Linked DNA regions of Homo sapiens: all the other regions are linked to region 1. The links come from fine-mapping of genetic effects on gene expression. A gene starts in region 1. Each other region holds a variant in brackets. All regions are shown on one strand. Distances are between the middles of the regions.

Region 1 (4,047 bases):
AGCTGGGATTACAGGCACCCGCCACCATGCCCAGCTAATTTTTGTATTTTTAGTAGAGGTGGGGTTTCACCACGTTGGCCAGGCTGGTCTTGAATTCCTGACCTCAGATGATCCTCCCGCCTCAGCCTCCCAAAGTGCTGGGATTACAGGCGTGAGCCACTGCGCCCAGCCATGACTATTATTTTTAAGGGTTGGGATGCCTTAAAGGTACTTTTTTCATAAGAAACACACAAACTACATTATCTGAATTCTGGCCATGTACAGGAAGACATTCTTAAAATATTTTAAAAGCCTCTGATTTTAAGGTGAACAGAACCTTTTAAAGGCACTGCAAGTACCCGCTGGTTTACTGCTTTATGTACACACCCTTCGTGGCCACTGAAGATTCTACATGACTGGCTAACTCATTTTCACAAAATAAGTACCTTTTTGGTCATACCGTGGTGTTAAAAGAAATAGGATCCCAGGAAGGAGGTAGTGAGACATTAAAAACAAAAAATAGGGTGCGGGTGGAGGGAGAGAGAGCATCAGGAAGAATACCTAATGGATGCTGGGCTTAATACCTGGGTGATGGGATGCTGTGTGGAGTAAACCACCATGGCACACGTTTACCTATGTAATACATCTGCAAATCCAAATCCTGCACATGTACGCCTGAATTTAAAATAAAAGTTGAAAGAAAGAAAAAAAAAAAAAGCAAGAGATCTAGTTGATAGTCTGTTTTACTAATGATTCACTGGGTAACCCTGGATCAGTCTTCTTAACTCGAAGTGAAGCGCCCAGTAAATAAACTCCCAAAATGCCTTCCAAGGAAAATATTTTGTTGCCAAATCAATTTGCTCTCTTAATGACTTAGCAGACATGATCTTGGTGATTATATGAAGAACTGCATAATTACAAGTATTCACAGGAAACCTGGTATTTGCCTATCAGTTTCGGATCCTATGAAGGTTTAAATGAGTCTAATATATGGTTCTTTAAGGATCTACAAACCAGTATGTATTTTAGAAAAGCTAGTTTTTGCATGAGGAGGATAGGTTTTAGAATGTGAGCCTTTCCAGCATGTTACTACTGTCTTTCCACACTTATTCGGCGCCCACACTGAATTGGGAAGGTGCTGTGTAAAAACCTGGACAGGACAATACAAAAAATGGTTCTCAGCGCCACTCCTCCTATCCTTACATCTCTTTTCTCTCCAAACTGTTCGAGAATCTGATAGAAGATCTCCAGAGTAGCGTCAATCAACTGCACAAAGGTCTGCATTACAACATACAGAGAGAGACATATGGGCTTGTCCAGCTCTTCAGAGCAAGGACGGCCTGATGCAGACTTTCCAGACCTCTAACATAGGTTAAAGAGAAACGAAGCAAACGCCTGGTGAAAAGCTGGAAACACCTCATATGGGTCCCCGCCTGGCCTCTCCAAAGCAAATGCCCACCTCTTCCTTCAGTCCCCTGGGGGCGACCGCCCTGCCCCATCCCCGCAGTCGCCTGCCGGCCCTGACCTCCTCGAACTGCTCGCTAGAGCAGCCGGCGCCGCGAGCCTCCAGCAGCTCCCGGAACTGCTCCAGAGTGACAGACTCTTCGCCGCGGCCCAGCCGCTCTTCCAGCCAGCGAAACAACGCGCCGCGATGCCTCGACACCAGCGACTCGCAGGGGGGTGTGGGCAGCAACGCTGCAGCAGCCTCTCGCAGCCTGGCCGGCTCCAGCAGCGCCGCGGCGGGTGGTAGCGCTGGAGCCGCGACGCCCGGGCCGGGGGTCGTGCCCGAGACCGCGGCCCAGTCCTGGTGTGGGCCCCAGCCCTCGCCACCGGCAGCTGCCGCTTCGTCTTCACTGCTGTGACTCGGAGCGTTCCCCATGGGGTCTCCGTCTTGGGCGCCTGGCTCTGCAGCCGCCGCCGCCGCCTCCCCGCCTCGACCTGTCAACCTCCGACAGCAGCTGGCGGGCGGGGACGCGGAGGAGACGACGGCGGCCCCTGCGGCTTCCGGCTTCCTGGCCGTCAAGCGACGACCGCTGTCGCAAAGGCGCCGTCACGTAGATAGGCGGCCTCTACCAACTCACGACAGCTAGGCGGGGAGCGCCGCCTCAAAGGGTGCAACCTTGATTTCCCAGAGGACGAGTCTGTCTCAGTATCTACGTCATTCCGTAGCCTCCGCTGCCGCCATCTTTGTTGGGGCTGACAACCTGCAAGCCAAGAAGTACGAGAAGGGCCAGGCGCGGTGGCTCACGCCTGTAATCCCAGCACTTTGGGAGGCCGAGACGGGTGGATCACCTGAGGTCAGGAGTTCGAGACCAGCCTGACCAACGTGGTGAAACCCTGTCTCTACTAAATACAAAATATTAGCCGGACGTGGGGGCGCGTGCCTGTAATCCCAGCTACTTGGGAGGCTGAGGCAGGAGAATCGCTTGAACCCGGGAGGCGGAGGTTGCAGTGAGCCGAGATTCCGCCAGTGCACTCCAGCCTGGACAACAAGAGCTAAAACTCTGTCTCAGAAAAAAAAAAAAAAAGTACCTGGAAAAAGTCGCAGACAGCGAGCTTTTCGCCAGTGCCAGGAATACAGATAAAACGAGAGAGACTAAGGGAGGGAGCGCGAGCACTAGCGCGCGAGAGAGAGAGCGAGAGCGCGCGCGCCGATGACGTCACGCTCGGCGTCTCGGCCATCTTAGCTGTAGATAGAGGCGGCAACCTCGGAAGTGCGGAGCGGGTGGGCCTATATAGATGTTGAGGTGCGGAGGCCGTGGGCTTTTGTTGGGCCTGGCTGTAGCCGCAGCAGCGGTAATGGCAGCACGGCTTATGGGCTGGTGGGGTCCCCGCGCTGGCTTTCGCCTTTTCATACCGGAGGAGCTGTCTCGCTACCGCGGCGGCCCAGGGGACCCGGGCCTGTACTTGGCGTTGCTCGGCCGTGTCTACGATGTGTCCTCCGGCCGGAGGCACTACGAGCCTGGGTCCCACTATAGCGGCTTCGCAGGTATCAGCGAGGCTGCTCACGCCTTTCTCTCCGCTGGCGCGAGCCAGTAGCCACCTGCGCGTCGTTCGTTGGTTCATTATTCATCTATTTCCCCCCCCATCCCCACCCCACATCCATCAAACCCGTGCGGTGGGCGGGACGAGCTGCATGCACTATCCTTCTAGGCTCTCTGGCTCTGGCGGGACTGTGGGCCAGCTCTGTCATCCACCACCGCCCTGCGTGACTTACATTGGAGAAACATGTCTTCTGTCTCTTGTTACCCATTACCCAGCGTCGGAAGCCCTAGGATACGGGCTGTGTGCCGGACTTTTGTGGGGGCTCTTAGGGCACAGATAAACGAGATCCCGCCCCGCCCCTACCCTCACAGTTTCCTTAATAATTCCAACCATCTCTTCATTATGCCCTGGTCCCAAATAATCTTTCTTCCCCCCACCCCTAAGCATAGTGTTTTCAAGGTTCATCCATGGTTTATGAGCATGCATCAATACTTTATTCCTTTATGGCCCGTCATATAGTACATTTGGTCTGAGTCATTCCTGCTTCTAGTACAAGATGCACCTGTTTGCCTTCCTTAGAAGGTTAGGGCAGAGGAAAGGGGTCCAGTCACCTTTACAGTCCTTGATACGTAGACCAAAGTTGTGCATATGTTAGGCCTCAAGAAACATTTGTCAAATTAAGTTTATGCTGGTGTCCCTGTGTTACAGCTGAGGGGGTTAAAGGATGCGATTTGCCTGAAACCCTCACACCTGAATACTGACAGAATATGGACTCGGACCACCAGTCTAGTGCTTTTTTTTTAAAGATGGAATCTCGCTGTGTCGCCCAGGCTGGAGTGCAGTGGCCTGATCTCGGCTCACTGCAAGCTCTGCCTCCCGGGTTCACGCCATTCTCCTGTCTCAGCCTCCCGAATAGCTGGGACTACAGGCGCCCACCACCACGCCCGGCTAATTTGTTGAATTTTTAGTAGAGACGGGGTTTCACCATGTTAGCCAGGATGGTCTCGATCTCCTGACCTTATGATCCGCCCACCTTGGCCTCCCAAAGTGCTGGGATTACAGGCGTGAGCCACCACACCCGGC
Region 2 (4,047 bases), 45 kb before region 1:
ACATGGAAAAGTAACTACAACAGTGTAATGGATTGTTTATAACACAAAGACTAAATGCCTGAGGGGATGAATAGCTCATCCTCATCCTCTGTATGATTATTTCACATTGCATGCCTGTATCAAAACACCTCATGTACCCCACAAATATATATACCTACTATGTACCCATAAAAATTGAAAACAAAAGTAGTAACATTGCTTAAAGAAGGTAGCACGAAAATTACCATAATTCTTATCTGTGTAACTTGGAAGGCAGATTCAGTTCCGGTAGAAAAAATAGTGCTGGCTCTGGTTTTTCCAGTTTCCGTAAGAAAACCTGAAAAAAGGGAAAACTCAAGTTAGGGAACTAACCCATTTTTATAGCCCTAAGAACTAAGATCAACAAAAACAAACCATATCCTTTGAGTCATGGGGGGTAACTGGTCTGATATCTTCACGAAAATTAGAGAAAAATGTCCTCTTTGGACAGAGGCAACCCCGATGATAAAGCCCCAGGTAAGCAGAGAACTGACCAGGTTCAACTTTCCCAGGGCACAATCCCCTCCACCTCACAGGCAGCCCTGCTCTGAGGTAACAATAAGAAAATAAATGTTTAGGCCGGGCACAGTGGCTCACGTCTGTAATCCCAGCACTTTGGGAGGCCGAGGCGGGTGGATCACGAGATCAGGAGACGGAGACCATCCTGGCTAACACGGAGAAACCCCGTCTCTACTAAAAATACAAAAAATTATCCAGGTGTGGTGGCGGGCGCCTGTAGTCCCACCTACTCGGGAGGCTGAGACAGGAGAATGGCGTGAACCCGGGAGGCGGAGCTTGGAGATTGTGCCACTGCACTCCAGCCTGGGCAACAGAGTGAAACTCCGTCTCAAAAAAAAAAAAGAAAAAGAAAAAGAAAAAGAAAAGAAATGTTTATAAAACATTTAAGCCAAAGCGACAAAAGACTGGACAATCAATCATCTTCCTGAGCCACACCTACAACCATGGCTGATGGCTGCCTGGGCTGATAAAGCCTACTGGCTTAGTGGCTGAGAAAGGGATTAGTTAGCTTCTACAACACTTTGTCAGGAAAGGTTATGAAAGGCTTTGAAATGGGAAAAAAAAAAAAAAAAAAAAAAAAGAATCACTGGGTGTCCTAGCCAACATACCCTTTCGGTCGTCTCTGCCTTTTATGGTCTCTAAACTATTTTACAATTCTGTAAGTTGTAGAACACTGGTAGTGATGCACATGATTCTTGTCCACAGAACTAAACACTGTGTTCTGTGGAAATGTTGCTGATTATTCCTTATGGATACTGACCAACATTCTATCTATTTGTAAATTAATTTTAGCATTCTTGTTAGTCTACATGTATTTTATGAATTCTCCTTAGAACTGTTTGTAACATCTTACTGGTTCCCTCATTAATTAATGAGCTAAATAAAAAGTCTGGGCCAGGCACAGTAGCTCATGCCTGTAATCCCAGCACTTTGGGAGGCTGAGGCCAGTGGATCACTTGAGCCTCAAAACCAGCCTGGGCAGCACAGTGAGACCCCATTTCTACCAAAAAAAAAAAAAAAAAAAGCAAAAATCAAGGTGGGTGTGGTGGCTCACACCTATAATCCCAGCACTTTGGGAGGCTGAGGCAGGCAGTTCACTTAAGGTCAGGAGTTCGAGACGAGCCTGGCCAACATGGTGAAAACCCCATCTTTACTAAAAACACAAAATTCGCCGGGCGTGGTGGCACACACCTGTAATCCCAGCTACTCAGGAGGATGAGACAGGAGAATCGCTTGAACCCGGGAGGCGGAGGATGCAGTAAGCTGAGATCTCACCATTGCACTCCAGCCGGCCTGGGTGACAGAGTGAGACTCCAACTCAAAAAAAAAAAAAAAAAAAAATCAGCTGGGCACGGTGGTGCACACCTGCAATCCTAGCTACTTGGGAGGCCAGGGTGGGAGGATCGCTTGAGCCTGGGAGGTGGAGGTTGCAGTGAGCTATCATCACAACACTTCACTCCAGTCTGGGCAGTAGAGTGAGACCCTGTCTCAAATGAATGAATGAATGAATAAATAAATTAAAGTAAATAAATTAAAAGTATGAATGTGTTCACTTATATTTGTATGACAGTCACTATTTTCCTTTTTTGATTGTTGGTAATTATCCTTTAACAACTCATGAAAAAGTCTTCTGCTAGACCCAAGGTTGCCTTTCTCTTTCAAACGTCTCTAAATGATATAACTCAGCAATAAATAAGCTTTTTTTTCTGGGACTCTGAATTTTCTTAACAATTCTGCCTATCAAAATGACAAGACTAAAACCAATTTCATGCTTCCTGTTTCATTACATGGAGTTCAAGCCAACAAAAATTTATAAAGACAATGTGCAAAATGAGTCACCAAAACTAAGAAAATTAAATCCAAAGGAAACTTCTCTAATTCACACAGACGCTCTATGATCTAGT[T/C]CTATGAAAGAGCAATTCTATAGGCAATTTTAAGAATCCATACTACCAACAATTCACACAACTCCACTAACAGTAATACTAAGAACTATCCCAATTATTGAACTCTTACCTTTTCCCAGAGCCCTGGATGTCTCTATGTAAAAGAAATCTATGTAAAGGCTAAACTATTGTCTAAAAGTTAAGTGATAAATCAGCAATTTTAGTTAGTCTCAATGTAGTAGCAGAAGCAATAATTTAAGTCAACAGAATCGGATAGACTCTTTTAAAATAACACTGCCACCAAATATGCAATGACATTTTTTCAGAAAGGCAAAACAAAAACAAAACCTTAAAAAAAAAAATAAAACTTCTGTGCTTCCTTTTCTTGGTAAGAAATCAGCTCACGTGGTTTTTTTCATTTTTCTCTTTTGTTTTTTAGACACAGGGTCTCGCTCTGTTGCCCAGGCTGGAGTGCAGTGGTACAATCATAACTCACTGCGACCTTACACTCCTGGGCTCAAACAATCCTCCTGCCTCAGCCTAAGTAGGCCCACAGGCAAACACCACCATGCCCAGCTAATTTTTTATTTCATTTTTTGTAGTGACTGGATCTCACTATGTTACCCAGGATGGTCTCAAACTGTTGGCCTCAGGAAATCCTCCCACCTCTGCCTCCCAAAGTGTCGGGGTTACAGGCATGAGCCACTGTGTCCAGCCTAGCTCACAGGTTTGACTGTGATTTTTTTTTTTTTTTTTTTGAGACAGAGTTTTGCTCTTGTCACCCAGGTGGGAGTGCAATGGCGCAATCTCAGCTCACTGCAACCTCCGCCTCCCGGGTTCAAGCAATTCTCCTGCCTCAGCCTCCCAAGTAGCTGGGACTACAAGTGCCTGCCACCATGCCTGGCTAATTTTTGTACTGTTAGTAGAGATGGGGTTTCACCATGTTGGCCAGGCTGGTCTCGAACTCCTGACCTCAGGTGATCTGCCTGCTTCGGCCTCCCAAATTGCTGGGATTACAGGTGTGAGCCACTGCACCCAGCTGAACTGTGATATTTTAAATCTATAAGTTTTGACACCCTGCCCTCCACTTGCCAATTTATTCTTTTTAGATAACAGGGAAAAAAAAAATAACCAATCAGATTTAAAGGACTTAATAAATCTACCACTTCTGCTCCTATCAGGAGCACCCAGTATTCCTTTAAAATACCAGACCAAGTGACAGTGGTGACTGCCAGGAACGTTAGCCCCCTGAAGTATCAGCGTTTGAGTTCTCTGGGCATTCTGTGGGCCCTGCAGTGGCACTTGTCCAAAAGTGGTACTTCCCCACTGTTGGAGAATCAGACGTGTACCCATGAGAAGAGCTTTTACTCCGATAAGGGGAAGAAAAAATCACCCCCAAACCCAACAGCTCTGGCCATGAGTACTTTCCTCTTGTCTTGTCCCTTAAGGGTTACTTTTTGCAGTGCAGCAAGAGAGACCGACATCAACCCTGAGTTACAAGCAATAGATAGTGATGGCTGGAGGGAGTGAGCAGGAGGAACCCAGTGCTCCCCACACCCATTCACATCCCACCCTTGTGTTTCTCAGGCACATGGCAAAAATAACAAATCCACAAACTACAGCTAGA
Region 3 (4,047 bases), 21 kb after region 1:
GAGAATTCATTTCCTTTTTGATACTTACCTTATGGTACTTACCTTCCTACTTAATCTGGTAACACATCTCTCATGTCAGGGCAAAGGATTCAGCAAAGAATTAGGTTCAGCAAGAGTAGGTTGTCATTTTAATGGCCTGAAGGGCTCAGCCATGAGAAGCTGGTAATTACTGGAGAAATGCCTGGCCTTTCCCTCTCCAGTACAGGTGGCCCTGGGCAAAACCATGGGGGAGGAAGGGCAAGGCCCTGATGGAAGCCACAGATAAGCTCAGCTTAGGCTGAGCATGCAGTTAGACTTGCTGGCAGAAGGAAGGGAAGGAGAAAACATACATATTGGGCAACTATGCTGGGCCAGGCCTTGTTCTCATTTAATCTCTATGCCTGCCTTGAGAAGTTCCCATTTTATGGCCCAGAAAAGGGGCATAAATATCTCCCCACCTCTTCTAATAGTTACATCAACCGTCGGGTGACAGAGCTGGGCTTTGTGATGCGAGTCTGATCTCTGCCACACCAGTGAGCACAGTGTCAAGGCAAAGCCTTTGCAGCTGCACTCCACTCCAACATTGTGAAGGAGGCCGGGCGCTTATAATCCCAGCACTTTGGGAGCCCAAGGTGGGCGGATCTCTTGAAGCCAGGAGTTCGATGGAGGCCAGCCCGGCCAACATGGTGAAACCCCATCTCTACTAAAATACAAAAATTAGCTGGGTGTGGTGGTACGCATCTGCAGTCCTAGCTACTGGGGAGGTGGAGGCTGCAGTGAGCCGAGATCACACCACTGCACTCCAGCCTGGGCGACAGAGAGAGACTCTCCCAAAACAAACAAACAAAACCCAAAAATAAAGAAGTCATCTTGAAAGAAGTTTCAACATTTGCCTTTTCATTCTGAGATTACAGTTTTCTATAAACATCTAAGAGTGAAGAGTCTGACGTTTTTTGGTCACAGCTGAGCCACTGCGTGACCCCCGCCCCGCCCCACACTCACTTTGCTCTAGGCAAAGCTGTACTCTGAAAGCTGGCCCCAATGGGGAGGTTAGGACTGTGCCTGCTCAGAAGTCTGTGGGTGCCTCAGAGAAGGGCAACAACCCTAGGCTGGACCCTAGCCTTGAGAGTACTTCCTACTGCCAGAGCCCCCAGATTTCTTCCGGTGGCAGCAGATACTGCCAGAAGAGCCTGCGGTGCACACACCAGAATCCGGGTACTTGGATGAGAAGGACACATTACTGATCACCTTCCTCCAGGCAACCCTGTCAGTTAAGGACTACAGTCCCGCCCCCATTATGTAGATAGGGAAACAGAGGCAAAGAAGTTAGGAAACTCGCCCAGAACTCTCAGCTCATGAATAAAAAAGCAGAACTAAAACCCAGTGCTCTCCCTGGCTGGGCAAACGTGTGGAAGTTGATGTGCCTGGTTACTGTTTGTGCTTCGCTTATCATAACCAGTGACAGCGTGGTTAGCACTGTTCGCCTCAAGGGCAGCTGTGAGGATTACTTGGGATTGTCCTGTGGAAACACTTCACATGCATATTAACTAGGAGAAAAGCCACTGGAGAATGAGCTTTATGAGCTCTATCAATCACCACAGCTAGTCTGACCTAGGGGTAAGCAAAATGGAAGACAGGAAAAAGGGAATACATTTGCTCAGGACAGCGTGAGGGCCACGTGAGCTGCTTGATTGGTAGTGATTTGTACAGGGGCTTTATGGATCACTAGGTTTTAATTTGCAAGGCCTGAAACTGTCCTTAGCATTCTCTGAAACCCACAGTGCCAGTCGCCCTTCACGCCTCGGCCAGCAGAAAGCTCCTCATGAGTGGATCCTCTTGAGAACTTCAGAGGGGTCAGGTGACGGTGACTGAGACTGCCTCAGTGATCACGCTCGGTGCTATGAGCTGAAATCTGGGCCAAGGGCACAGTAAGTTCAGGCAGCTAGTATGTTTAAAATAACTACTTTTCGGGAGCTAAGCCATGAGGACGTAAAGGCATTAAGAATGATACA[G/A]TGGACTTTGGGGGCTCAGGGGAAAGGGTTGGGGTGAGGGATAAAAGGGTCCAGTGTACACTGCTTGGGTGATGGGTGCCCCAAAATCCTGGAAATCACCGCTAAAGAACCTCACGTAACCAAACACCACCTGAACCCCAAAAACCTACTGAAACTTTTAAAAATTAAAAATACATACATAAAATAGCTACTTTTACTGCTGTCAACAGCATGTTCCTGAAAAATGTTGGAATTCAAACTTTCTGGAGGGCAGCTGGTCAAGAAACTTATTCACGTCAGGAGTTTTCTAAAATTTGTTTTTAATGCTTATTGGTACTTCTGCATTAGAAGTAACTACAAATGTCTTATTAAAGTTTCCACTTTAAATGCACAATTTTACTTCATTTTATTATAAGGAATTGTTACAGAAAATGCAAATATCAGTATTTGAAAAATACATTCCATTACACAGACTCCAAAGAAACAATGCTGATAAGCGCCGTGGTCCTCTATGATACCATCACCCCACACTGAGCACCACCCCGAAGGGGCTGGAAGCCAGGTGATCCACCCAAATGTGTGCCTGCAGTTTCTGCCCAGCTACTGCCCCTCCTCTGGGATCACACAGGGATGTCGTAACAGCCAACTCCACACATCTGCCAAAAAAGAGCAAGTCATCAAGGCGAGCAGTCTCGACTCAAGACTCCCTAGCTGCAGAAAACCAATGTTGTCAGTTGTAACAGGTTAATATATTATTTATGCCACACAAAAAAGGAATAGTACAGGCAATGATCTTCCAAAGAAAGTCTTTAAGGCATCTGTAACTTCTGGGAATTTCAGGGTTTTTATCTTGCCAGTCAGCTCTCACTAAAGTACTTCCACAGAGTGAGAAGGTGGCTCCCAAGTCCCTTTGGTGAGTTGGTGCCACCTGCTTCCTCTGCCACCAGGCTGGGGTGGGGAGCTTTGGTGCTTCAGGTAGTTCTTCTGGGACTTGTCCCAAGGGAAGCAAGTGTCTGTCATGGAAACATTACCCTTCCTTGTTCCTGCTACTGTCACCTGGGAAGTTAGCGTTAGCTTGCCTTTCAGGGTGAAGCATTACATAGTTCAAAAGTGTTCTTTTTCTCCAGATAAAAGAAACCTAGATGGAGGTCAAGCTCTCCCCTTTCCCAAGACGTTCCCTCCACTCCGTGCCCGTGGAGAAGATTAGTGCAGAAACGGTTCAATATGGCAGGTGTGGGACATGAGCGGGGAGGAGTGGAGAAACCACACACACACTGAGATCCACACAGGGACCCATTCAGGGACAAGAGTGAGGACACAGAACGGGGTGGTCAGAAATGACTCGGGGCTCTGAGGTAGAGGACTAAAGGTCACGTAGACCCCACTCCTTGGAGAGAACGTGGCAGGTGAACTGAGCAATCGAATCCAGCCTCAACTAAATTGGTAATTGGGGTTGACCGTGCACAGGCCCAAAACTCCAAATGGAACACATGTTCTAACACATCGTTCAGTGAGACACCACGAAAAAGATGACTGAAAGTTCAAAAGTCCTAAGTGTAGGCACTTAAGTTTATGGGAAATTTCGGTGTTAGAGGATCATAGCAAATTAGTTTAAGCCATTCGATTTATATATAGCACATGGTCCGTACCTTTGTTTTAAAAACAACGACAACAAAAGACTGTTAGGAATACACTGGATAATAAATCTGGCGATGAGCAAAGGGCAGTTGAGAGCACATTCAGCATAACAATGTTGACTGTTGCAGCAAATTATGTTTCAGTAAAGTTTACTTTTCCTGCTCTACTCATTCAGAAGTGGCAACTTTCTGAATGAATTTAAGTTTTTGCTACTAGTACTTAAGCTACTGATGAAAACTTACAACAGCTAGGCAGGTTTGTACGCAAGTGTTGACAGCAGGGAGAGCACGGGAAGGGCTGGAAGCATGCCTAGTCCCAGCCAGGGCAGGGCATGTTGGAGTCAGCTCCCACTCAAGCAGCCTGCTGAGTGCAGCCCAGCGAGCGTCCGCGTGGTCGGGGGGCTTCCTAAGTCTGTGGAAAGAGGCTTTTCCTATATCCA
Region 4 (4,047 bases), 150 kb before region 1:
AGTCTCACTCTGTTGCCCAGGCTGGAGTGCAATGCCACGATCTTGGCTCACTGCATCCTCCGCCTACCAGGTTCAAGTGATTCTCCTGCCTCAGCCTCCCAAGTAGCTGGGATTACAGGCGCCCACCACCTCACCTGCCTAATTTTTGTATTTTTAGTAGAGACGGGGTTTTACCATGTTGGCCAGGCTGGTTTCGAACTCCTGACCTCAGGTGATCCGCCCGCCCACTTTGTAATCCCAAAGTGCTGGGATTACAGGCTTGGACCACCACACCCGGCCTCCTCCTCCTCTTTCTCATGCTCATATTTCTCTTTCTTTGTATCCTCTTTCTCCTTCTCCTCCTCCTCCTGCTCCCATCCCCCTTCCTCTTCCCTTCCTCCTCCTTCCTCTTGTTTTTTTCTTGCGTTTCTCTGATTACTCCTCCAGGTGAACATTTACCATCTGCTTATTGGCCATTTGTATCTTTTCTTTTGGGAATTGTCAGTTTCTGGTTCTTGGCCATTTTTCTGTCGGTGGGTTTATCTTTATTTTATTGATTTACAAGGGCTCCTTGTAGATTATAGAAAATAACCTTTTGTTGTAAATTTTTTCCAGTTTGTCATTTGTCTTCTATTTTTATTTATTATTTATGGATCATTTGTTTTATTAAAATCTTGATTGTGAAAATAACATTTGCTCATTGTTAAGGATTCCAACAATGCAGAGGGATAAGAGGAGGGTAGAAATGCTTTCTCCTCTCTCATCCCGTGCCCAATCCTCAAACAGAACCACTCCACACTGCTCACCTGTGCTATTAGACAGTTTCTTTTCTTTTCTTTCTTTCTCTTTCTTTCTTTCTCTTTATTTCTCTCTCTCTTCTTCCTTCCTTCCTTCCCTTCCCTTCCCTTCCTTCCCTTCCCTTCCCCTTCCTTCCTTTCTTCCTTCCTTCCTTCCTTCCTTCTTTCTTTCTCTCTTTCTTTCTTGAGACAGAGTCTCACTCTGTAGCCCAGGCTGGAGTGCAGTGTCACAATCTCAGCTCACTGCAACCTTCGCCTCCCAGGTTCAAGCAATTCTCATGCCTCAGCCTCTCGAGTAGCTGGGATTACAGGCGTGCGCCACCACACCCAGCTAATTTTTTCTTTTGTTTTTTTTTTGTATTTTTAGTACAGACAGGGTGTCGCCATGTTGGCCAGGCTGGTCTCGAACTCCTGACCTCAGATGATCCACCCGTCTTGGCCGCACCAAGTGCTGGGATTACAGGAGTGAGCCACTGCACCCAGTCAACATTTTCTATGTTTATTCAAAAATAAATATTTATAAATCCATTCGTTCAACTGTCAACCTAAATAACAAACAGGGAGAGGCTGTCTAAAAGGAAAAGATTGCCAGGCACAGTGGCTCATGCCTGCAATGCCAGCACTTTGGGAGGCTGAGGCAGGTGGATTGCTTGAGCCCAGGAATTTGAGACCAGCCTAGACAACATGGCAAAACCCTGTCTCTATAAAAAATACAACAACAACAACAAAAATGAGCTGGCCATGGTGGCGTGCACCTGTAGTCCCAGCTACGTGGGAGGCTGTCCTGGGAGGATCACCTGAGCCCAGGAGGTTGAGGCAGCAGTAAGCCACGATGGCACCACTGCCCTCCGTCTGAATGACAGATCTCAACATTTTTTTTTTTTTTTTGAGATCTTGTCTCGGAAAAAAAAAAAAAAA[C/A]CCCAAAACCACCAAAACAATAAATAAACAAATAAATAAATAAAAGTAAAAGATATTTATTATTCCCAACTAACTGACACAACTAATATTTGTTAAGTGCCTGTCGAGTCAGGCCCTGTGCTCTAATTTGGGCACAAAATGATGAACAAAACAGATATTGTCTCTGCCACCATGGAGCTTACAGTTTAACAGGGAGATGCTGATACAAAAAAAAAAAAAAAATCCATGTCAGTATATGTACACATTGTGATCAGTGCTGTGAAGAAAGATAATAAAGGGCGCTGTGGAGGACAGCCTCCACGATCCCCCATGATCCCTACCTCCTGGAATTCAAGCCCTTATTTCGTACCTTCCCCTTGTATGGGGGTAGGACTCATTGACTTGATGATCACAGACACTAAAGCAAAAGTGTTGGAGTGTGACCTCTGAGATTGGGTTATAAAAAGACTGTAGCTGGCTGGGCACAGTGGCTCACACCTGTAATCCCAGCACTTTAGGAGGCCAAGGCAGGAGGATTGCTTGAGCCCAAGAATTCAAGACCAGCTTGGACAACATAGGAAGACCCTGACTCTACAAAAAATAAAAAGATTAGCCAGGTGTGGTGGCAGGTACCTGCAGTTCCAGCTACTCAGGAGACTGAGGTGGGAGGATGGCTTGAGCCTGGAAGTTTGAGGCTGCAGTGAGCCATGATTGTGCCACCACACTCCAACCTGGGTGACAGAGACAGAACCTGTCTCAAAAGAAATGACTGTGGCTTCCAGTTTGGGTGGTCTTGCTCTTGGATCACTTGTGCCAGGGGAAGTAAGCTGCCATGTTGTGAGTTGACTTATGGAGAAGCCCATGTGGCATGGCAAAGAACTGAGAGGCCCTCAGTCCAACAGCCTGCGAAACACTGCAGCCTGCAAACCACCATGTGAGTGAACAGATCTGTTAGCTCCAGCCAAGTCTCAATATGACTGCAACTCGTGAGAACCTTGAGCCACTGACGCCCAGCTAAGCTGTGCCTGGATTCCCGGCCCACGGAAACTGAGATAATAAATGTTTGTTGTTACAGGCCACTAAATTTGTAAGTCACTGGGTTTCCCTCTGTAGATCAATTTGGAGAGTACTACCATCTTAACAAATTTAACGCTTCTGATCCACAGATATGGGATGTTACTTTCTGCTTATTTATATATTATCTTTGTTTGCTTCATGTTGCTACAACAGAATACTTGAGAAAGAATAATATATAAAGGAAAGGGGTTTATTTAGCTCACAGTTCTGCAGGCTGGGAAGTTCGAGAAGCATAGCACTGGCATCTGCTCAGCTTCTGGTGAGGGCTTTCCTGCTGCATGAAAATGTGGCAGAAGGTCAAAGGGGAAGCGAGCACATGTGAAGAAACAAAACCTGAGGGCTGTCCTGGCTTTATAACAACCCACTCTCACATTCTCATGAGATGTTTCTTATGAGTGTGGATGCAAAAGTCCTCAACAAAATACTAGCAAGCCAAATATTTGTAAAAGTCCTCAACAAAATACTAACAAACATTTTTATAAATGCCCATGAGAACAAATCCGGTCTCACAAGAGCTAGAACTCACTCACTACCACAAGAATGGCACCAAGGGGCCTGTGAGAGTGGAACCCCCCCATGACCCAAACACCTCTCATTAGACTCCACTTCTTAAAGGTTCTGACATCATTATATTGGCAATTAAGTTTCAATATGAGTTTTGGCAGAGACAAACCACATCCAAGCCATGGCAGATCTTTAATTTCTTCCAACAATGTTTCATGGTTTTCATGCTATAAGTTTTGTACTTCTTTTGATAAATTTATGTCTAAGTATTTTATTCTTTTTGATGCTATTGTTAATAGAATCTTCTTAATTTCATTTTTGGATTCTTTATTGAAAATGTACAGAAATACAATCAATTTTTGTGTATTAATCTTGTATTCTGCAACCTTGCTGAATTTATTAGTGTTACAGTTTAATAGGGGGATGCTGATACCAAAAAATCCATGTCAGTATATGTACACATTGTGATCAATGCTATGAAGAAAGAGAAGAATTGGCACTGGGGAGGGTAGCCTCCAAGATGCCCCCATGAACCCTGCCTCTTGGAATTCAGTAATTTTTTACTGAGTTCCTTAAAATTTTACATATGGAAGATCAGGTTACCTACAAATAGAGATAGTTTTACTTCTTTTCTAAACTGGATGGCTTTTTGCTTCTTTTTCTATCCTAATTGTCCTACCTAGAATCTCCCCTACAATGTTGAATAGAAGTGCTGAGAGTACACATCCTTGTGCTGTTCCTGACTTAGGAAGAAAGCATCCAGCTTTTCATTAGTAAGTTTGATGTTAGTGGG
Region 5 (4,047 bases), 72 kb before region 1:
ATATCACAAAGGCAGAGACAGAAAGAACTAAGACAAGCCTGGCCTCCTTCAAACCAATAATGGCAGGCATTCTAGAAACAACCTGCACACAGCAAGACATTCCGAGTTCCCACAGTTGTAGAGTTCCCACAGTTGACTGTGTGTTTTCTCTTCTGCAAACAGGTATGTGGTATCTGAACACAGCCTGAAGTTTCCCACAGCAGGAAGCCTTCCATTTCTCAGCTTTTAACCCACAGGCTTTTATCCCTCTACTGAAAATTCCTTCAAGTAAAAAGATTATCCAGCTTTCTTACTATAATTTGATTACAAAAATACATATTGACATTCCCCCCGCCAAAACCATACAGGTTACATCACCCCCTCGATTCCTCAGCAGAGAAAAACTCTTCCATATGACATTTGTTTCCATAAATCACTCATGTCTCAACACAGTTTTGTTTATTTGAGCAGCTTTTTAAAGGAGATATTAAGATTTGGGGATGTAATCAAGATGTTTTAACAATCAGAAAATAAATTCTGCAATGTGAGATCCAAAGAAATGAGCAATAAAGGTGGTAGGAATAAAAATATCAATAATAACAAAACGAGGCTGGGCGCGGTACTCACGTCTGTAATCCCAGCACTTTGGGAGGCTGAGGCAGGCAGATCACCTGAGGTCAGGAGTTCAAGACCAGCCTGGCCAACAGGGCGAAACCCCGTCTCTACTAAAAATACAAACATTAGCCGGGCGTGTTGATGGGTGCCTGTAATCCCAGCTACTCGGGGGGCTGAGGAAGGAGAATCGCTTGAACCCGGGAGGTGGAGGTTGTGGTGAGTCAAGATCGCGCCACTGCACTCCAGGCTGGGTGACAGAGTGAGACTCCGTCTCAAAAAGTAAAACAAAACAAAACAAAATGAGCAACAGTCAATTACCCACTCTAGTGGAAGGAAGCTCTGTTTTTGCTTCTCCCGCCTGCGCTGCGTGGAGAAGACATACCCTGCCAGGCGGTTAGGAAGCCCATGCCTTATCTCTAGGTAGGGCTTGAAACACTTTTCCCCTGAATTAGTATGAAGGTAGAGAGAGACTCTCCCTCCGTGTGGGTCCTGCTAGGCGGCAGGGAAGCAGGGTAAATACAGAGATGGCATCCCTAAGAGACATGAGGAAAAGAGATGGTGAGGAGAAGGTTATCAGCAAAGGAAGCCTAGTGGGGTGATGCTACGAAGGCGCTGCAAGCTAGCTAAAGGTAATAGTTAATACCTACAGCTTCCTCCTTGGTTATTACTACATTCAAGAACTTAAACATCTGTGGTTTTAATTGGAATTTCTTAGAATGTTAGAGCGAATCACCCTTAAACCAATTTTACAGATAAAGAAACTGAGGTGCAGAAAGGTCGTCTGATTAACCTGAAGCTGCACAACTTTTGAGTTTTTGCACTGGGACCAGGACCCAAGTTAAGGTTTCTTTCCATTAAATTTCTCAGCAGTTTTCCATGAGAATTCTGGATAAAGATAATTTACCTGCTAATTTTGCAACTCAAGGTTAGGTGCCACACATTATAATCTGCTAACCATAAAGTGGCCATGAATCTTTTAATAGGCAAAGTAGAACCAACAAGATGATGTTTACAGTTATAGAAATGTGTTTATATTTTAAAATATTTTAAATGTTCACTTAAGATAGGCTTTCTTAAAACTTAGCAATTAGCCTTCAGATCAAAAATATTCCCTGTAATAAAGTTACCATATTTTTGCAGCTTCTCATATAAATCTGGAGTGCGATACACCAGAGCAGCAAAGGTGGCGTTCACAGCTTGATCAATAGTGGAACCAGCAACTATATCTGTCTTTGGGGCCTGTTTTCTACATGCCTGTATGAATCCTTTGAAAAGTTCTGAATATGGCCCACAGAAGTTCTGAGCAGGCTCTGACTGGGCAAAATCAAGAAGAAAATGGCGGCAGGGGTCGTCAGGAATGTTCTTAACCTGGAAACAAAAAATAAACCCATCACATTTAACACATTCATTCAAAAAATAAAATTTATTGAGCAAACTATTAGGCCAAAGCAGAAGTATAAAACACAGTGAACACTCTCCGGAAGTTTAAATCTATTTTAGGAAGACCAGACAGAGATATGAGTTAAAAAAAGATAAACATAAATAAAACATTAAAAGCATTAGAACTAGCATTCCCGTAAAGCAAAAGATTATCAAGTGCCAAATGCCTAGAAGGGATACCCAGTGCTGAGAATTCAAAGGAGAGAGATCCTGGTAGGTTAAAGTAATTAAGAAAA[G/A]CCTCCTGGAGGATATGGGCTTTGGCCTGGACCCTGAAGGATTGGCAGATTTGGCTCTGAGGAACATAACCATTAGCAGAGGTTACGAGTCAGTGGGGAGACTGACCTGGCCTGAAGTCTCAGCTGGGGAGTGATGGGAACTAGAGTCAGATAGGTAAGGTGAAAGGAGACTGCAGAGAGCCTTGACTGTCACATTGAGGAGTTAGACTTCACCCTGTGGGCAATGGGGAGCCATTAATGGTGCTTGGCAGTGGAATGACAAGATAATGCAGTGATTATAAAAAAAACTTGGTAGGTACGAATGTCATAAGGCAGGTGCAAATGAGGGCCCGGATAAAGATGCAGACAGAGGAAAGGACAGAGATGAACATCATGAGGAAGAATCCACAGGACCTGCAAGCTGACTGGACAGGAATGGGGAGACAGGTGAGGACAGGGGATGCTAGGGAGCAGTGGCTTCAGGCCTGGGGAACACTGACCACCACAGAAGTGACCGGTCTTTGGTTTTACACTTCTGAGTTAAGGGGAGTCAGGACATTTAAATGGAAATGCCTCACAGGAAGATGGAAACAGGTACTTGGAGCGGGGAGAAAACCAGACCTGGAGACTGATATTAGGAATTAGGGCCACAATGTTTGACAGGAGAAGAAAGTGGAGAGGATGAAGTCTTGGTGGGCTGTGGGGAAGGGAAGAAAGCCTGAATAAAGCCTACCCTTTAGGGAAGGAGGAATATGAAAAGTCAATGAAGGAGGCAAGTGGGCAGTCAGATGTAAGAGAAGACAGCGGACTAGCATGGATCCAAAGAAGAGAGGGTCTGAAGGAGCCAAATTTAACAGAGGCAAGGAGAACAGAAGCTGAGGAAGAGCCACTGGATTTGGCAATTAACTACTGAATAACGTGGGGCAGGGCAGGGAGGGGAAGGAAGAAAAGTAGAATACAGAAATAGAGGGAAGGAGAGGTGAAAAATAAAGACAGGGCAAACTTTTTAGTTTTTAAAATCTTATACACCTAAATCATGTGCTGTAATTCTAAGGAGAACAAAAGGTATAGCACAAATCATTGCTCTAAAGCTTGACTCAGTAGGCACTAGAAGTACACTCAATTGTTTGCCTGATAACTCCATCAACAGAGATTTACTGAGCACCTCCTACATTTCACCCAAGTCACGCATTCAGTATTTCTGAACACCTATTGCGCACTGGCCCCTGTGGGACACGGTGGCGTTAACAAGTTAACAAGGTATAGTTTCTGGCCTCAAGGAGCTAACTGCTTAATACGGGTAGTAAGATAGAAACACAAGTGTTTATAACTTAAAGTAATAAATACTTGCAGGCAGTTTCCAGTCTAAATAGAAAGAAAACGGAAGAGTAAATACCTCCTTACTATTCCGGTGTGGGTGAGTGGGCCAGCTTGCTTCTAATTCCAACTCTGGACAAACCTGATGCCTGAAGACAGGTTTCCACAGTGGGGAGCTTAGGACTAATGCCATTTTTGCCTGAGGTACTACCATGTTACTTCCTAACTCTAGAAAGAGAAGAAGACATATGACAGTTCTATTTTTGCCTTAATATATTGAGAATCTTTGAAATGAGAAAGAAAAGGTTAAAAAAAACCATGGATACTATTAAAACTTAGAGAAAGTTTACCCACATACCAGAATGTAATTGTGATACTTTGTAAACACATACCACAGATTAAGCTAAACCACCAAGTCCTGAAATACTGCTGCTCTGTGGAACAACTTCAGTTACAAGGTACCTTGGAAATGACTAATCTG
Region 6 (4,047 bases), 230 kb after region 1:
CCGCCTGCTCACCTGCCAGCTGTCTTCGCAGTAGCAGTGCCGACTGCAGCTCCGTCATCCTCCCTGCCGAGGGCCCGGGCTGGCGCCGGGGCTTCCGAAGGGCTGGGGACAGGCTCTGGGGGCGGCTGGAGCGGGGTGTGCCGAGGAACCCGGGCCCCGCGACCGGAGCGCCGGAGCCGAGGAAGGCCGGGCTGAGGCGGCGGGAGCGGCGCCTCGCTGCCGGTGCGAGTCCGCTCGCTTCAGCTCTTTTCACAGCGACTCACGCCCGGAAGGGGAGGGTGCCCGGGCTGCCGCGGCGCGCACTGGGACTTCGCTCGCCCGCTTCCCTCCTTCAACCCGCCCGTCGGCCCCACCGGTGCCTTCCCCCGCCACTGCCTCACTGCGCGCAGGGCCGCTCGGCGCAGGCGCGCTGAGACTGCCGACTTGGGAAGCGTCCCGCCCGCTAGCCCGACCCCTCGGCCTCCCGCCCCGCCCCCGGCGGCGGAACCCCGCCCCTTGAGCGCAGTTGTCCCGTCCGCCGCCATTTTGGGAAGGTCGACGCCCGGCTGCCAGCCCAAGCCTCCGCTGGTAGACGCCCCGCGGACGCCATGACAAAGAGGTCGCAGAGGGTCAAATACAGCCTCTGGATTGAAGCAGTGGATATAGGAGCGAAGAGGCCAGAAGAAGTGGTAGATGTCTAGTCCTTGGCGAGCGCCCAAAAGCCATCTAACACTGCCACATGGTGTGCGAAGTAGGAATTGTTAGAAAGCCGAAGTTAGTACTGGTGTGCCCCATTTTAACCAAACATCAAAATAGAGGCAATATATGATGATAACTCACTTTACATGAAGAGTGCACAAAAAAAGCCACCGCGTCCGGCCCTATTATTATTGAGCCACCGAGACCGGCCCTGTTATTATTATCATTTATGGACGGCAATTCTCTCTGTCGCCCAGGCTGGAGTGCAGTGATCATAGCTCACTGCAGCTTGGAACTCCTGGGCTTAAGGGATCCTCCCATCTGAGTCTCCTTAGTATCTGGGATTACAGGTACACACCACCATGCCCTGCTATTTTTTTATTTGCTTTATAGAGATCGGGGGGTTTGACGGGGCGCGGTGGCTCATGCTTGTAATCCCAGCACTTTGAGAGGCCGAGGTGGGCAGATCACCTGAGGTCACGAGTTCGAGACCATCCTGGCCAACATGGTGAAACCTGGTCTCTACTAAAAATACAAAAATTAGCCCAGCCTGGTGGCAGGCGCCTGTACTCCCAGCTACCAGGGAGGCTGAGAAAGGAGAATTGCTTGAACCTAGGAGGCAGAGATTGCAGTGAGCCGAGATGGTGCCACTGCACTCCAGCATGGCCGACAGAGAGAGACTCCGTCTCACAAAAAAAAAAAAAAAGGAGGGGGGGGCCAGAGGTCTCTCTGTGTTGCCCAGGCTGGTCTCAAACTCCTGGGTTCAAGCAGTCCTTCCAACTCGGCCTCCCAAAGTGTTAGCATTACAAGTGTGAACCACTGCCCCCTATCAAATAGACCAAAGGGACCATTTTGATATTTCACTTTACCAAATCAAGGAAATTTACTTCTATTCCTAGTTTCTTTCTTTTTTATTTTATTTATTTATTTATTTATTTTTTGAGACAGCCTTGTTCTGTCGCCCAGGCTGGAGTGCAGTGGCGTGATCTTGGCCCACTGCAACCTCTGCCTCTCAGGTTCCCGAGTTAAAGCAATTCTCCTGCCTCAGACTCCTGAGTAGCTGGGACTACAGGCGCACGCCTCCAGGCCAGGCTAATTTTCTTTCGTATTTTAGTAGAGATGGGGTTTTACCATGTTGCCCAGGCTGGTCTCGAACTCCTGAACTCAGGCAATCCGCCTGCCTCAGCCTCCCAAAATGCTAGGATTATAGGCAAGGGCCACTGTGCCCGGCCTATTCCTAGTTTCTTAAGATTTATTTTTTGTAAAAAAAAAAAAAAAAAAGAT[T/G]TATTTTTTGTAATAATTTCCAAATCTGGTGAAAGATCAGGGCTGGATAAAGGTTTAGAAATTGAACCTAATCCTTAAACAGTGGGAGGCCCCTGAAAAGTTTTAACTAGGAGTAGAAAAATAGCAGACTTGCATTTTGAATGTTTTGCTGTGGCTGCAGAGAATTGATGAGGGAGGGAGGGTCAAGACCAGTGCCCTGCAGGCTGTGGTGGCTCTCATCTGTAATCCCAGCTCTTTGGAAACTCCACGCAGGAGGATCACTTGAGGCCAGGAGCTAGAGACTAGCCTGGGTGACAGAGCAAGACCCTATCGCTACAAAAAAGTGTGTTTTGTTTTGTTTTGAAACAGTCTCCCTCTGTCGCCCAGGCTGGAGTACAGTGGCACAATCTCAGGTCACTGCACCTCTGCCTCCCTGGTTCAAGTGATTCTCGTGCCTCAGCCTCCTGAGTGGCAGGGATTACAGGCCTGTGCCACCATGGCTGGAGAATTTTTGTATTTTCGGTAGAGACAGAGTTTCACCATGTTGGCCAGGCTGGTCTTGAACTCCTGGGCTCAAGTGATCCACCCGCCTCAGCCTCCTAAAGTGATGGAATTGCAGGCATGAGCCACTATGCCCAGCCCAAAATATTTTTTTAATAAACATTTTAAAATTTTAATAAAAATTTTTAAAGCCTGGAGACCCTTATGGAGATTGTGGCAGTAACTAAGACTTGGATTAAGGAGTGTCCATAAAATATTTAGGCCTTGGTGGCCAGGCGAGGTGGCTCACGTCTGTAATCCCCGCACTTTGGGAGGCCGAGGCGGGCAGATCACCTGAGGTCAGGAGTTCGAGGCCAGCCTGACCAACATGGAGAAACCCCGTCTCTATTAAAAATACAAAATTAGGGCCTAGGGCAGTGGTTCACTCCTATAATCCCAGCACTTTGGGAGGCCAAGGCAGGTGGATCACGAGGTCAGGAGGTCAAGACCAGCCTCACCAACATAGTGAAACCCCGTCTCTACTAAAAATACAAAAATTAGCTGGGCGTGGTGGCCAGCTAATAGTAGTCCCAGCTGCTTGGGAGGCTGAGGCAAGAGAATCGCTTGAACCCAGAAGGCAGAGGTTGCAGTGAGCCGAGATCGCACCACTGCACTCCAGCCTGGGCGACAGAGCAAGACTCTGTCTCAAAAAAAAAAAAAAAAAAAAAGGCGAAATTAGCCGGGCGTGATGGTGCATGCCTGTAATCCCAGCTACTTGGGAGGCCGAAGCAGGAGAATTGCTTGAATCCGGGAAGGGGAGGTTGCTGTGAGCTGAGATTGTGCCATTGCACTCCAGCCTGGGCAACAAGAGTGAAACTCCGTCTCAAAAAAAACAAAAAACGAAAAAACAAAGAATATGTAGGCCTTGGTGATCTATGGGATATAGGAAAGAGCAGGGAGCACCACAGGTGACTCTCCTGACCCGGGTGACTGGGTGCCATTGGTATGACAGACCAAGTCCAAGGAGTGGGTCTCGCTTTGTTGGTTAGGCTGGTCTCAAACTGGTCTCAAGCGATCCTCCCGCCTTGGCCTCCCAGAGTGCTGGGATTACACGCGTGAGCCACTGCACCTGGGCCCTCTTGCTTTTGAGGTTAATGCCATCCAGCTGCAGCACTTGCCACTCCCCTTTGGTGCTGTGACCTGCAGACCCATTCATCATGGACTTTTCCTCCTGCCTCAGAGCCCTTCTCTTCATTCTACTCCAGCCCTCCACCTTGGGGACCTAATTACCCACATGAATGACCCGTCCGGTACCCCTGCCTCTCACCACTTGACTTCCTCTCCTTCCCTTCCCACCAGCTGGCCTCTCCGTGTTCCCGTGGGACAGTCTCGCCACCCAAAATTCCACCACACCCCAGTACTTGGTTTCAAGCCACGCACCCTGACCACCATTCCTTATCCTTCCAGCTTACTGGCTTTAGCGTTCACGCCACACAGCTCTTCCACACCAACAAGACCCCATTCTGTGTACCACTTTTTTTTTTCTTTTCTTTTTAAAACAGAGTCTCGCTCTGTCAACCAGGCTGGAGTGCAGTGGTGCGATCTCGGCTCACTGCAGCCTCCGCC
Region 7 (4,047 bases), 110 kb before region 1:
TGGAAACTCCATGAAAACAGACCTAATTTTGGACAATAAAACAAATTGTAATAATATTCATAATAGGACTGAACTAATTAAAAATATGCTCTATGACCACAAGGGAATTAAACCTGAAATCAACAACCAAATGATATCTGGAATATCCCCCAAATATTAAGAAACTAAACATCAAACTTTTAAATAATCCACAGAGCAAAGAAAAAAAAAATCACAAGATAAATTGGAAAATATATTGTGACCTAAATGAAAATGACAATATATCATAAAAAAAAATTGTGAGATGTTCCTACTGAATCCAAGGGACACCGAAAAAGAAAAAAAAAATAGTGGATGTGGCTAAAGTCATACTTAAAAGGAAATGCACAACATTAAAATTCTTCTATTGCCAAGGAAGAAAGGTCTCAAATCAGTGATGGCTCCTACCTTAAGAAACCTGTAATCCCAGCACTTTGGAAGGCTGAGGCGGGTGGATCACTGAGGTCAGGAGTTCGAGACCAGCCTGACCAACATGGTAAACCCTGTCTCTACTAAAAATACAAAAATTAGCCGGGCATAGTGGCATGTGCCTGTAATCTCAGCTACTCAGGAGGCTGAGGCAGGAGAATCACTTGAACCCAGGAGGTGGAGGTTGCATTGAGCTGAGATCATGCCAATGCACTCCAGCCTGGGCAACAAGAGCAAAACTCCATCTCAAAAAAAAAAAAAAAAAAAAAGACAGAAACCAGAAAAGCAGCCAGGTGTGGTAACTCATGCCTGTTATCCCAGCACTTTGGGAGGCTAAGGCAGGAGGATCACCTGAGCCCAGCAGTTTGAGATCAACCTGGGCAACATGCTGAGATCCTATTAAAAAAAAAAAAAAAGAAAAGAAAAGAAACCGGAAAAGCAGTAACAACACATTAAACACAAAGCCAGAAGAAATAAGGAAATTTATCTGGGCAGTAATCAAAGAAACAGCAAACAGAAATAAAAGAAAAATGAATGATACCAAAGTTGGTCCTTTGAAAAGATCAAATAACTTGACAGATCTCTGGCTAGACTATCTAGGAAACAAAAAGAGAAGACATAAATTGCCACAATCAGAAAATAAGAGAAGACGGCTCATACCCCAATATGCCAGGCTGAGAGAAATTAAAGAAACCTAAATTTATTCTCTAAATAAACTGAATGATGTACCATGCACTCAATATAGAAGTCCCTGACTTACAATGGTTCAACGTAATGATTTTTCAACCTTTATAATGGGTTTATCAGGACATAACCCCATTATAAACTGAGGAACATCTGTCTGGTTAAGGTATTGTCCCAAATTAATCTATAGATTTGATGCAATGCCAATCAAAATCCCAGAAGGCCATATACTTTTCTGAGACAGGGTCTTGCTCTGTTGCCCAGGCTATAGTGGAGATCACAGCTCACTGCAGGTGATCCTCCCACATCAGCCTCCCAGGTAGCTGGGACTACAGCATGCCACCACGCCTGGCTACTTATTTTATGTAGTGATGGGGGTCTCTACAAAGTGCTGGGATTTCAGGTGTAAGCGACTGCGCCTGGCTCCTGCAGGCTCTTTTATAGAAACTGATAGAAACTCTTTTATAGAAGCTGATTCTAAAACTTACACAAAAAGACAAAGAAACTAGAAGAGTCAAAACAATTCTGAAAAAGAGCAAAGCTGAAAGACCTGATTTCAAAATTTTATACAAATTTAAAATAGTCTGGCCAGATGTGGTTGCTCATGCCTGTAATCCCAGCACTTTGGGAGGCTGAGACAGGTGGATCACTTGAGGTCGGGAGTTTGAGACCAGCCTGGCCAGCATGGTGAAACCCCATCTCTACTAAAAATACAAACGTTAGGCTGGGCGCAGTGGCTCATGCATGTAATCCCAGCACTTTGGGAGGCCAAGGCAGGCAGATCACCTGAGGTCAGGAGTTTGAGACCAGCCTGGCCAATAGGGTAAAATCTCATCTCTACTAAAAATACAAAAAATTAGCCAAGTGTGGTGGTACGTGCCTGTAATCCCAACTACTTGGAAGGCTGAGGCAGAAGAATCGCTGGAACCCAGGAGGCGGAGGTTGCAGTGAGCTGAGATCGTGTCACCGCACTCCAGCCTGGGCAACAGAGTGAGACTTGGTCTCA[A/AAAATAAATAAAT]AAATAAATAAATAAATAAATAAATAAATAAATAAATTTACAATAGTAAAAAAAGTGTAGTACTGAAGTAAGGACATATAGATTAATGAAACATAATAGAATCCATAAATAGACAGATACATGTGTGTCAATTTTCGACAAGATTCCAAGATAATTGGATGGAGAAAGGATGGCCTGTTCAACAAATGGTCCTGGATCAAATGGATGTTCATACGCAAAAGAAAAGATCTTAGACATTTACATACACGAAAACAGCACAGACACTGCCTAATGCTGATGCTGAGTGAAAATGCAGATGGCTTCACGAGCAGAACTGGGAATGTAATGGGTAGATACTCCAGATTGCCTGGGCCTTGGCAAACTAAGTCAAAAGGGCATTTGTGATATAATACTTTCAATGTTATACTGATAAAACAAAATGGAAAGTTACATGAATTCTAATACAATTATTTTAAGTGCAGCCACCTGACTCCATGTAGTCACCTGACTCCAAAATATGTTTAAATTACCCATAGAAAGCAAATGACACCAGCAAATGGAGAAATTAAATGTTCAGAACCTATATATCTAGCCAACCAAAAAACACAGAGCCATATACACAAAAAGACAGCATGGAAAGGGGCCTTTGAAATTATCCCAATTCAATACATCATTTCAGAAATAAGGAAAAAGAAGCTCGGGGAGCTATAACTTGTTCTTTAAAAAAATCACACGCAGGCCAAGAGCCAAGGTAATTTCATTGATTTTAGGGTACGGAGGGATTAGGCATTTTTCTTCCATTCTTAGAAAAAAATAATTACGCATGGTACCTGTTTTCCTCTTCCGAGTTTTGACATCAACAATCACAGCCCTGTTCTTCTCAGTAAAGTGCTTCAAGATGATCACATTATGGGGTTCATTGGCATTATCCATATAAACGCAGCGGGTTCCCACACAGAGGACCTAGAACGTGGTAGACAGAGACAGAAAGGCAACTCAAACATGGAGACAAGAAAGAATTCTTAGGCATAAGCCCAGCCCCCTTTGATTGTGCCTCTGATTTCAACAAGCACGCAAGGATAGGGATCTTCTCATCTCTAAGTCCAAAGAGTCTGCCACAGGCTGGCACAGAATTGGTTTAAGTCCTTGCTGGATGAGGCCATGTTTTTACAGCCCCCTTTGTCCTAATCAGTTGAGGGACATGAAGATTAGAAATAAGGTCAAGGTGAATGCCAAAATGAAAGACAATTTTCTTTGAAGTTCTTTGTAATCTGATATATTACAGTCACCTATTATTCAAAGCCAACTACTGGCTATAAATGAATCAAATGTTTAACCGTTAAAAATGCAAGTTGAATAAACCATCCCATAATCTTGACAATACTTCAATACTACAAAAGCAAGGTGTACAGGCAAAGGAAAAAGCTTCCAAAGAGATCTATGCCTATATATCCGGAAGCCACAGAGGCTTTGGTGTGTATAGTGAAGACTGGAAGGGGTGACCAGGCCCTCAGGCCTTCAGAGTGTGGTACCTGGGGGAAGCCAACCAGCACGAGCAGGGTGAAGATGTTGGTGTGCTTCAGCTGGAATGGCAGCTGCTTGATGCAGTGGTCTGTGAAGGTGGCAATGACATCACGCCACAGTGGGGCACTGTTGAGTGACCGCAGGATCTCTGCCATGGAGCACGCCCAGTCCAAGCCCACCCGGCTGGAAGGCAAGAGCTCCATTAGGGGCAGTACACAGGGCTCCAAACTCAACTCGTTAGAGCTCACTACACTCCAAGGCAGACCCAGAAGCCTTCAAAGAGCCATTCATTAACTAGCTTAAAAACTACCAGAATAATGCTTTTCGTATAATGGTGAGTAAAAGAGCAAACAAAATCAAGACTTGTTACTTACATACTCACCCTACGGCTGTGTTTCCAAAAATAT

Direction of the effects. Alleles are on the strand shown, and positions count from the first base shown. SD is a standard deviation of normalised expression in the study named. Not every link is listed here.
With allele C in place of A in region 4, the expression in macrophages of the gene that starts at base 2,160 in region 1 is lower (large effect, 1.2 SD a copy in Nedelec 2016).

Evidence for each region. PIP is the estimated chance that this variant, and not a neighbour inherited with it, causes the effect.
Region 2: its variant is fine-mapped to the expression of CYB5D2 in whole blood (TOPMed, PIP above 0.99).
Region 3: its variant is fine-mapped to the expression of CYB5D2 in blood mononuclear cells (TOPMed, PIP above 0.99).
Region 4: its variant is fine-mapped to the expression of CYB5D2 in macrophages (Nedelec 2016, PIP 0.95).
Region 5: its variant is fine-mapped to the expression of CYB5D2 in lung (TOPMed, PIP 0.99).
Region 6: its variant is fine-mapped to the expression of CYB5D2 in whole blood (TOPMed, PIP above 0.99).
Region 7: its variant is fine-mapped to the expression of CYB5D2 in whole blood (INTERVAL, PIP above 0.99).

What each region holds. Positions count from the first base shown.
Region 1 is chr17:4,141,038-4,145,084 of GRCh38, forward strand. CYB5D2 (cytochrome b5 domain containing 2) reads left to right here and starts at 2,160. Exons shown (of 4, transcript NM_144611.4): 1 at 2,160-2,968. The coding sequence starts at 2,719. ZZEF1 (zinc finger ZZ-type and EF-hand domain containing 1) reads right to left here and starts at 1,993. Exons shown (of 55, transcript NM_015113.4): 1 at 1,505-1,993. The coding sequence starts at 1,858. RefSeq lists a silencer at 1,719-1,888 and enhancers at 1,754-2,305, 1,969-2,278, 2,306-2,858, 2,429-3,008.
Region 2 is chr17:4,096,385-4,100,431 of GRCh38, forward strand. It overlaps ZZEF1 (zinc finger ZZ-type and EF-hand domain containing 1), which reads right to left. Exons shown (of 55, transcript NM_015113.4): 10 at 225-316. Among named protein-coding and RNA genes, the nearest start is that of ZZEF1, 45 kb to the right of the region's middle. The variant T/C (reference allele first, on the strand shown) is at 2,442.
Region 3 is chr17:4,161,548-4,165,594 of GRCh38, forward strand. It overlaps ANKFY1 (ankyrin repeat and FYVE domain containing 1), which reads right to left. Exons shown (of 25, transcript NM_001330063.2): 25 at 2,274-4,047. Among named protein-coding and RNA genes, the nearest start is that of CYB5D2, 20 kb to the left of the region's middle. The variant G/A (reference allele first, on the strand shown) is at 1,992.
Region 4 is chr17:3,991,025-3,995,071 of GRCh38, forward strand. No RefSeq gene overlaps it. Among named protein-coding and RNA genes, the nearest start is that of LINC01975, 16 kb to the left of the region's middle. RefSeq lists an enhancer at 2,693-2,822. The variant C/A (reference allele first, on the strand shown) is at 1,695.
Region 5 is chr17:4,068,963-4,073,009 of GRCh38, forward strand. It overlaps ZZEF1 (zinc finger ZZ-type and EF-hand domain containing 1), which reads right to left. Exons shown (of 55, transcript NM_015113.4): 25 at 3,646-3,794; 26 at 1,722-1,962. Among named protein-coding and RNA genes, the nearest start is that of ZZEF1, 72 kb to the right of the region's middle. The variant G/A (reference allele first, on the strand shown) is at 2,271.
Region 6 is chr17:4,366,259-4,370,305 of GRCh38, forward strand. It overlaps UBE2G1 (ubiquitin conjugating enzyme E2 G1), which reads right to left and starts at 417. Exons shown (of 6, transcript NM_003342.5): 1 at 13-417. The coding sequence starts at 58. RefSeq lists enhancers at 1-436, 256-550, 3,489-3,538 and a silencer at 1-587. The variant T/G (reference allele first, on the strand shown) is at 1,963.
Region 7 is chr17:4,029,180-4,033,226 of GRCh38, forward strand. It overlaps ZZEF1 (zinc finger ZZ-type and EF-hand domain containing 1), which reads right to left. Exons shown (of 55, transcript NM_015113.4): 41 at 3,649-3,823; 42 at 2,947-3,079. Among named protein-coding and RNA genes, the nearest start is that of LINC01975, 54 kb to the left of the region's middle. The variant A/AAAATAAATAAAT (reference allele first, on the strand shown) is at 2,138.